Linked DNA regions of Homo sapiens. The protein of the gene in region 1 interacts with the protein of each later gene in a pairwise test. Each region holds a gene or a part of one and is shown on either strand. Other genes may lie near its edges.

What was found. Proteins that work in one complex are often made in the same cells at the same time.
Region 2: the proteins of GAREM2 (region 1) and ITSN2 interact in a two-hybrid assay, tested with the Homo sapiens proteins (one large-scale study listed by BioGRID).

Annotation. Positions count from the first base shown.
Region 1 is NC_000002.12:26,185,495-26,190,865, reverse strand, and holds the end of GAREM2 (GRB2-associated and regulator of MAPK protein 2), read right to left. Parts: intron 4,678-5,371; coding exon 4,508-4,677; intron 3,636-4,507; coding exon 2,609-3,635; 3' UTR 1,203-2,608; downstream 1-1,202. UniProt on the Homo sapiens protein: Probable adapter protein that may provide a link between cell surface epidermal growth factor receptor and the MAPK/ERK signaling pathway.
Region 2 is NC_000002.12:24,203,338-24,208,092, forward strand, and holds part of ITSN2 (intersectin-2), read right to left. Parts: intron 2,939-4,755; coding exon of another isoform or gene 2,910-2,938; exon of another isoform or gene 2,907-2,909; intron 1,961-2,906; coding exon 1,877-1,960; intron 1,082-1,876; coding exon 908-1,081; intron 447-907; coding exon 289-446; 3' UTR 1-288.

The DNA.
Region 1 (5,371 bases):
TTGCCCTTCTGGTTTAAACGCCTCCTTCAAAAAGCAATCTGGAAGAAAGCCCTGTGCTTTGGGGGAGTAAGAATGTGTGTGCAGAATTCTAGGCAGCACCTTAGGGAGGGACTGGGATGAGAGAAAGTGGGACCTGGTGGGCTCAACCACACACACCTGTCTGTGCAGATGCTTTGCCCAGGCTTCTCACCACGGTGTACCGGGATATTAAACCTCTTTCCCCAGCCTGGATTTCCTCATTGTGTGATCTTACCCATTTCTTTTCTGGGTGTGCCTCATTCATAGGTGCTTCTTGGGATGGTTGTGGGAACGTTGGTGCTAAGCAGAGGCGCTGACATCTCCCTTGATGTTCGGAGATCCTGCATAGCAGGGCTGCCCCAGAAATGCCTGTGCGGTAATCAGGCAGCACGGGAGCAGCATGAGGAGTGCTGACCCCCACAGCACCTGCACTCCCCCAAAGCTTCAGCCCCTCCCCACCCCACCCCCTGGGATGGAAAGTTCCTACAGAAGCAGTGCCCAGTCTGGGTAAACAGCACTGGGGCTAACTGGGTCTGGCAGAAGGATCCACGCTGAGTGTGTGCGGAATCGTAATTCCAGTCCCATCACATTCTGCATTCTAAATTGTCAGATATTACCAGTTACTCCTGCCTCTGCTCCAGTTGTACTTCAAATATGTCCCTGGTCCCAGCTCTGTAGCTGGGACTGGCAGGCAAGGAGATCAGGTCTGGCTCTGCTTGGTCACTAGGAAGCCAGACTCTAAAACCAAGTCACCTCTGAGTTGAGGTTTTCAGATGACCAGAGTAGGGAGCTGATCCCTTGCACCAAAGCCATTAACCGGTTTCCAAATTTGGTCTGAGAGAGCCTGAAGCCGGCATTCTGCCAATGCAGGAAGCTAAGCTTGGGCCCTGGCTGGTGGCATTCAGCTTTGAGCCTGGGTCTTTCCCTTCAGTAACACCAGGTAGGTGTGAATTATGTTGAAACTAGTGGAAGCTGGGGTGGGGGTTCTTGAAGGGTAGGGAGGGGCTGGCGAGGGCCCTGCAGAAGGGAATGAAGGCTGCCACCAGCCGCCTCCACAGACATGGGAATGGCCACACACCCACATCATTCCTCCATCAGTCCTCTCCTGCCAGAAGGCATATACACTGTGCCCATGGGTCCCCATGGCCTTGTTTTCAAAAGAAGAAAGCAGCTGGCACCCAGAATGCCACTTGTACTCATCTTCAGCAGTCTAGCATTTATTTCATTAGTCCTTGAGGATTCATTAAATGATCTGCAAGAAAACCAAATGTCCCCACATCACAGGTTCTGTGCTCTACTCTCTGACCACTTCTCTGAGCTGAGGCAGCCTGCTTGGAGTATGGGCACCAGCATGGCTTAGCTACTTTTAAGATAAAAAGTGGAGGAAATAAATAGGTAGACTAGGTAAGGCAGAAGAGAAGGCTGGCACTTTGGGCCCTGACACTAGTGGGCACCCTGTGGTTCTGGGTGAGATGGAGGACACGGATGGGGTGGGGTGTGTGGTTGGACACAATGACCAGAGCTCTGGGTACCAAGCAGATCCCCATGTTTGAGATTCAAGGGCACAAAGGCCTGCTGTGAGGCACGTGAACAAATGCAGGACTGAGCTCCAGGAACGCACTCTCCCAACTGTACCCTCCTGTGCCAGTGACAGAAAACCAGGGAAAAACACCAAGTATTGTCAGAGACAAATGATGGGGGCAAGAGATTGGCGGAATTGGAGGTGGTTGACTACCGCTTGCTTCTAGAATCAAGGAGAAGCTGACCTAAATCAACCTGCTCTTCCACGGAATCAGTATTCTGAGACTGAACGCCACCTGACGGATGGATGACTAGCTGCAGTAAAGTCAGAGCAGAAGCCAGGGTGCTAGAGTCATCTGGGCAGTGTCTGGCTTCCTAACTAGATAAGTGGGTCGGGTCAATTGCAGAGCTGTGCTCTTCCAAAGTTGTCACCCATGAACCAGGACCCACAGGTGGAGCCTCTGAGGTGCCATGGGTTAGGCTTGTACACGACTCACCTGTGTGCGGGGCCAGGCCCCACCCCCCTCAACCACGGTGGAGCAGAGGGGGAAGGGAAAGGCATCTCACAGACACAGACATCTACACCCTCACTCTGGGGCAGCTTTAGGCCAAAAGCCAACAGAGCACAAAGGAGAGTGGGCACTTGGGAAATCGGTGCTTAAATTACCAGCCATCTTCTTGTCTCTAAACAGAGCCTACAGGCTTCAGCAGTGGAAGTCGTTTGTGAAGGTCTATAGCAGGGCATGAGGTGGTGTTAGGTCACCCTGAAGGCCAGCTTTTGACCCCGTTGTGGGAATCACGGCAAATGCCTTACTGGGCCCAGGTACACAGTGGTGCCCCCAGCCCCTTCCCCATGTACTCTGCACACTCAAAGGCAAGATGTCCCGTGCAGGGGTCTGACCCCAGAGGACCACATTTCCACATGCATCTCCCCTGGATCCACCCAGTGGCTGCTGAGCAGCCTCAGTCTCGACATAGATCCTTCTTGCAGGCAGCACCTGCTCCTCCGGAGTGCTGTACCTGGGGCCCCCATACCAGCATTCCAGCTGTGCAGCTCCAGCTGGGCAGTTCAGATCTTGGGCCTCCAGCCTTTGATGAACTGCATGATCTTCTTGACCTGCAGCTTGGTGAGGTGGAAGTCATCTGCCAGGATGTCCTCACTGAGCTGCACAAAGATGCTACCATCGATGCGTTCTCGGGCAAAGAAGCTCACCACATCCTCTGAGAGCCCGATGAAACGCAGACTGCGAGAGACCTCCTCCAGGGAGAGTGCAGACAGGTCAGCAGGGGGCTGCCAGGAGGAGGCATCTCGGACTCCAAAGCCTGTGGCTCCATCCCGGGGACTGGCAGGAGGCCCTTCCAGGCGCCCTTGGGTTAGAAAAAGTGCTCCTCCCGCCTCGGGTCCCTGCAGAGCAGCTGGTGACAGTGGGGTGGGGACCTGGTGCAGCACCAAACCTTCAGGCTCAAAGGCCTTGGAGGGGCCAAGTGGTGAAAGGCGGGGTCCAGGCCCAGGTGTCCCCACTGCTCTGGGCTCCTGAGAACGCAGCAGCTCAGGCTCTGGAGAACTGCCCTGCCCCAGCTCAAAGGGATCGAAGGGCTCCAGGACTGGTTCCTGCCATTCAGAAGAAGAGGAGGAGGAGGGGGCGCAGGAGGAGGGGGGAGCAGCTGAATAGGCCTGGCCTGGCGAGGCTGGGCCTGGGGAATACGCAGGGCCAGAGGTAGCCACAGGACCCGAGGTGGTTCTGGGCCCAGAAGACAAGGCCGCTGAAGGGCCTGAGGGGTAGGCAGGCCCGGAAAAAGGGTTGAGAGCTCCAAACGGAGCAAAGCGCTTCTGGGGATGTGAGGGCTTGAATAGAGGAGGGCAGCTGTGGTAGGTCTTAACAGGGGTGTCAGCCCCCAGAAGGGAGGCGGCTCGACCGCTCAGAGGCTCTGTGAGGGCCCGGGAGGCCTGGCTGGGCTGTGTGGTTGAGGGTAGGGGACCGGGGGCTGGGCGGCTAGAGGACTCGCCCACCTTGCAGTCTCCCCAGGTGCATGGGTAGCAATAGAGGGAGTAGGTGTCCGGCGATGGGGAGCCACTGCCACTGCGGGAACCCGCCCTGTGGACAGAGACAGACACACACACATAGGACAGGTGAGGCTGAGAGGGAATCCGATAGGGTCACACATGCATTGCAACCAAGCACCACTATGACCTCAGCAACACGGGCCTGCACCCCAGCCCCAGCCCAAGACCCTCCGGAATGGCCGTGTTCTTCCTTCCAGCATCCCCCAGCCCAGGTCAGAAAACACAGGGGAAAAATGAAACGAAACTGAAATTAATAAAAATATTTTCTTTCAATTTTTTTTCTTTTGAGATGGTGTTCTCGCTCTGTTGCCCAGGCTGGAGTGCAGTGGTGCAATCTTGGCTCACTGCAACCTCCACCTCCCGGGTTCAAGCGATTCTCCTGCCTCAGCTTCCCGAGTAGCTGGGATTACAGGCATGTGCCGTAATGCCCGGCTAATTTTTGTATTTTAGAAGACATGGAGTTTCGCCATGTTAGCCAGGCTGGTCTTGAACTCCTGACCTCAAGTGATTCACCCAACTCGGCCTCCCAAAGTGCTGGGATTACCGGCATCAGCCACCGCACCTGGCCTGAACTTAATCAAAATTTCAAAACAGCAAGGAGCTCTCTTCTCTCTATCCTGCAGCAAAGTCCCCACCTTGAGGGGACCAGGGCAATGCTCCCATCCGTTCCTCAACATTTAAGAGAGAAAGAAGCTGAAGTGGGCAGAACAGGCCACTGGGCCCCAGGCCCCAAGACACCCAGACAGCAGTGCCAATCCCTGAGCCACTGCACAGGGAGCTGCACCCTCGGGAATCTCCCAGGCCTCAAGACTTCCTCTTCCTCAGCACTGTAGTTCCCCCTCCTCACCCTTCCCTGCCTTGATCTACCTTAGAACTCAGGACCAAGGGAAGGCAGGGACTCACCCATCCTGGAGGCCAGAGGAGTAGTAGGAGAGGCTGGAGCTGGGGGAATGTACCGGCTGCAGCTTGGGGAAGCGAGGGGGAACCGGGGGGCTGCTGGAGAGCCGGCCGCTGCCATTGCCACCCCGGGGAGGCACTGGAGGGGCATTGAGCAGGCGGCACTCCTCCTTCACCTACAAGCAGAGGGCGGTGACTCCACCTCGACTCCAAACAGCTGGCACTCCTTATCTTCCCCTTCCCAAGCAGCTGGGCGAGGGGGCTGTCTGGGCCTGACATTTGCCCCACTTTGCCAATAGGCTGCCTTGCACCCCAACTGCTCATCCAGTCAGCCAGCCACCCCACCCTTCCTAGCCTTCCCAGCCTATCTCACGCACCCACACCCTGTCCCACAGCCTCCTTCCTGTTCCTTGGAAATCCATCATGGATGTTAAGAAAAAGAACACAAAGGTAGATCAAAACAGGTTAAGCAGACGTGCTCCCTCCTCAAGGAAAAGGAGAGAAAGCAGAGGACAAAGGAAAGCCGAAGGGACAGAGGGAAGGAAGCGTCTGCCACCTGCATCCCTCCCTACAAGTCGTGTACCCCAAAGAGGACTCCATGGGATGCTGACGGGTGTTACGGGCAGGGAGAAAATGTTCTGATAAACAGGATTCCTTAGTGCAGGACTTCTCAGAGCCTTTAATCTACCAATGCTCTGTGACTCCAATATGAGGAGGGAAAAAGGGCTGGGAATCATTCACAGCATTTCTAAGCTTACTTCGCCAAGGAACCTTCTTTTCACGCAACAACTTAAAGGACCCCTGTTCTGTGGTACCTTCTGGGTAACAGTGCTTCGGGGCTCCTCTCAAATCCTCTGAGGCTGGGGACCT
Region 2 (4,755 bases), 2.0 Mb from region 1:
TAATACTTTTTATAGCCCTGAAAATGGAAACCTTGGCATCTAAACAAACAGAGCTGAACATGTGAACACTAGGACAAGGCACTGTACTATGGGGTTTGGTTTCTTTATGGGAAAGGTGTTTGCATAGATTGCTAGCTATTTAGTGTGCAGGAAAACAGAGCCCCCAGCGTGCATGGCTTTGTGAGGGGTGAAGCTGCATGGTGCTCCCTCAGCCCCAAGAGAGCGCAGTCTCTCATTCTCCAGCCCCAGCCTTGTGGGCTGTCCCGCTGGTGCTGTCCTTTAGAACCCCTACAGGAGAGTTTTTTGCTCAAAAAGCTGCAGGTCAAAACGGACCCAGACCTCCCCGGTGGGGACCTCATGCAGCAGCAGTCGGCGGGTCATAGGGCCTTTGCTTTCCTGTTCTGTTCGAATTTTTGCCACTGGAATTTCAGTACGACCCAGGAAATCTGGTGAATAAACACAGGAGAGTCAGAAGTCTTTCTTCTTTATAAAATCATTAAAGAGCTACATCCGGAAGAAGTGGATTCATAAAACCTTCAAATCTGAAACAAGGAACTTCTTTTGGCTCATGGCTGTTGAATGTCGTGAGTGGGTGTGTGGGGAATGATGGCAGGTTTGTGTGTGAGAAGCTGCCACATGGAATTCAAATCTCCATTCTGAGAATGCTCCAGGAGTGGTGTTCACGTCGTGTGTGTAGGGAGTGATGGGTCAAAGACCTGAAACACATCTCAGGCCACCTCCTCCCCTGAGGAAGGCCACCCACCTGCTGCCAAAGCGAGATGACACAGGCCTGTGTCACTTCCCTGAAGTGGCATGGGGTCTGCACACAGCTGAAGCCCCTAGATCTGGACTCCAGGATCTAGGAAACTGGGAAAGCCTTTAGATCCCCTGGCTGAGCGACACTTACCATCTGGTGAAAACTGGTCTCTGTCAAACAGGGTGAGACACAGCACGTCTTGGTAGAGATCCTTAATAAAGAACTGGCAGTTAAAATTCCACTTGGGATTGAGTGTGTCCTGGATGGTCCTGGTGGTGTAGCTCTGGGAGCCCATGCTGATTTCACAGTATGGGTTGCTCTTTCCTGAACAAAAACAAACCACAGACACATGTGGTGCATGCAGGTAAAACGAAGCGACTGACAGTGCCCTCCCTGAGCAGAAGCAGGATTCCAATAATGGGTCACTCGAGACCATGGCAGCAGGAGCCGCTGCCTGGGGCACCATATCCCTGTGGTCTAGTAACAGGGTCTCCAAGTTCCCAGTGCTGACAGCAGCATTAACTGGGGAGTGGCCGAGAGCTCCACCGCCAGGACCACTCCGCACGGAACAATCCTGGGTGAGTGTCACTGCAACCTGCTGCATGCTTCCTCGGCGCAGACACACTCGGGAAGGCGGGCACTGGCACTTACTGGGAAAACAGTGATAAGAATATTGGTCCAATATGCGCATTTTAGTGGCACTGGACACACTGTTAGAAAGCATTCCTTTATTCAGTGTTCAGAAGAGTCATCAGTGGCTGGGCGCAGTGGCACTTTGTCAGTGACAAAGTGCTGTAATCCCAGCACTTTGGGAGGCCGAGGCGGGCAGATCACTTGAGGTCAGGAGTTCGAGACCAGCCTGGCCAACATGGTGAAACCCTGTGTCTACTAAAAATACAAGAATTTGCCAGGCGTGGTGGTGCACACCTGTAATCCCAGCTACTCAGGAGGCTAAGCCTTGAGAATCACTTGTACCCCAGAGGCAGAGGTTGCAGTGAGCCAAGATCGTGCCACTGCACTCCAGCCTAGGTTATACACTGAGACTCTGTCTCAAAAAGTCATCAGCAAAAACTGGGGCAGGGCAGTTATGTCTGCTGAATGAATCAAGGCAGTATTTACCATTTGGTTTGCAGGCTTTTAATTCTGTAGCTTCAATGACATGCACCATCAGGCGCCCAATGCCTGAAGTCTTTTGGGAGCGGGCTACAAAAGAGGAAGACAAGTCTCATTAATCTCTTCTCCAAGGATGCAGACCCTGTCTTTCAAACCAACCATAACACTACCGGCTCCCTGTCCCCATCTGCCACTGCCCTGGGCCCAACAGCCCAGCATCTGGCTGCCCTGTGCCTTTCCCCAGGCTGTGTTGCCTGCTAGGAAGCCCCTGCTTGCTCTTTCTGCCCTGCCTGCTTTCTCTGCCCGTCAGCATCCTACTCATCCTTCAAGATGCAGGTCTGATCCCACATCTACCTCCCAGATCCCTTCCCTCCTCTGCATCCAGTATCCCTCGCTTATGAGCAGCCCACAGCCTGCTGGGTCTGAAATCGTGTGTAATGTCTGTCTCCTCTGCCAGACAGGAGCCAGGGTAGAGCATGGACTGTTTCGATCATCCTTATATTAACCCCTCAATTGCCTAGCAAATAGTAATATTAATAAAATAATACATGGTATTTGTGCAGCACTTAATAGCAGCTAACATTTACTGGATACTTACTTTGTGTTAGGCATGTGCTAGACTTATGTAAATTATATTATTTAAACTGCATAATTACCTGATAATGTAGCTCCCCATTTTACTGATGAGAAACACTGAGGCTTAGAAAGGACTGGAGTGTGATCCACTCAGAGCTGCTAAATGGCAGGGTCAACATTTAAACATCAGATACCAAAGTCCAGGCTCAGTTAAGCCTAGCACAGAGCCTGGCACAAAGTAATTGACAAATGTGGGAAGGACTGAACGCACGGACGATGCACAGCAACATATGCAGATGCTGATGGGAAGCAAAACTCAGGCAGAAAAACCGGATTGACATCTTTGGCCAATTAAGAGATCATATGCGTTATGAAATGATCAATCATTGATTTTTCAACAGCAAGCTTTTAAAGTACCATTAAAATAACACTAAATTAGCAAAAGCTGTTTTAAACATACCTTTTAGGAGTATATAACAAAATGGGGGAAACCTGAATAAAAAAACACATAAAGAGCTGCAACTATAGCAGCCAGGAAGCTGGTGGGAGGCCCAGGCAGGAGGGCAGGCTGCATGGGGGGGCCCGGCGGGAAGGAAGGTGGAGATGCAGGGGGCCGGCGGGGAGGAAGGTGGAGATGCAGCTGGCTCAGAGCACAGGCCCCCTGTGGGGTGGAGGCCACAGGCTGGCCTGGCACAGCTGGAGATGCAGCAGGGAGGTTGGGGCCTGGCATTCATGTGGAGGCTGGAGAAGAATGTGGGAGCTCTGGTCTGAAGGCCACGGTGGGGCAGGGTGGGGTGGGGGGTGCTTTACAAAGACCATTGCGGCTCCACTGAGCAGGTGAGTGATCTGTGCCATGAACACAGAGGACATCACCGGTGCAACAAATCTGGAGCCCCACTGGCATAAGTCACATGCTGGCCCCGATGTGGGAGGGAGTTGCCTTGAGGGAGCTTATGGCCATTAAGTGAGAAAAGCAGGGACTGAGAGGGCGCAAGCAGAGGCAACAGAGGATGAGCGCCCGGAGGATGATCGCAGCCTCAGGACAGCGGGGGGTCCAGGTAGAAGTCACACTGGTTAGGGCAAGAGGGTGTCATGGAGGAGGCTGTGTTTGACGTGGGCCTTGAAGGATGGGAAGAATTTAAGGTGAGGGCAGAGCACTTGAGCTGGAGGGGGAGCTCACATGGGAAGGCCAGGCAGGGCAACAATGGGCTGCTCAACTAGGCAGCTGGATGGGCCGGGCACAGGAAAGAGCTAGGGATGGGGCTGGGTGGCAGGTAGTAGTGGGGATGGGCCCTGAGTGTGGGGTAAGAAATGTGTCGTTAATTTGGGAGGCAATAGGGAAGATACTTCAGCAGGAAGAGGTATAAGAGCAGCTCTGGAAAAAAGAATACTCCAGAAATGAAGAGGATGGGTGGCAGAGAGGAAAGAGAGCCTTGTGCTGCAGCCTGGGTGGGAGATCGGGGGCCTGTGATACGGGGACAGGAAAGGGCGATGGGAAAGTGGCGAGGGAGGAGGACTGCAGTGCAGCTGACCAGGTGTGAGGTGCCAGGGAGGGGCCTGGGTGGCCAGGGACCACACTACTGTCCACAGAGGGTCCCAGGAGGAGCTGCTGCTGGAAGGAGGCTGGTGGTCCCTTGGGAAAAGCCGATGTGTGATGTGGGAGCAGCGGGGCAGGTGGTTCTCTGGAGGGTGCTGTTCAGAGGCGCGGGCTTGGGAGAGTGTGGCTAGCCTGACCCTGAAGCTGGGGGTCGGTGGGGTCCCCGAGGGAGAGCGCTACAGAGGTCGGGGAGAGGCCTGGGCAAGGGTGGAAGAAGAACTGGGAAGGCGGCCATGGGGTCCAGAGGGAAGGCAGCGCCTCAGTGACTGCCATCAGTGCAGGGAGCTGGGGCAGGGAAAGTGAGCTGAGCCACTAACTAGGCCACTGGTGTCACTGGTGGGGACAGGACGTGGACTGAAGTCTGGTGAAGTGAGAAGGGGGAGGAGGCAGGGGCAGAAGGATGGGGAGAGGGCAGACTTAGGGTCTAGGCCCCCTGGCTGCAAAGGGAGAGGGTGGATGGCAGGCCCTAGAGGAGGGTGAGGAGGAGCAGTGGCTGCTCAGGAGCTGAAGGGAGACAGACCACAGGTGTGGCATGTAATGGAGCACCACAGCCCAAGCAGAGGTGAGGTGAGTCATGGAGAGAAAGGAGTGGAGAAGGTGCAGTGGAGTGGGGGGGATAGAGGTGGTGCAGAGAGGGAGGTCCCGGAGCTGGCACTGCCAGCCCGTGTCTGTGTGGGCAGGAGCCCCAGGGAGGTTTGCAGTAGTAGCTTCA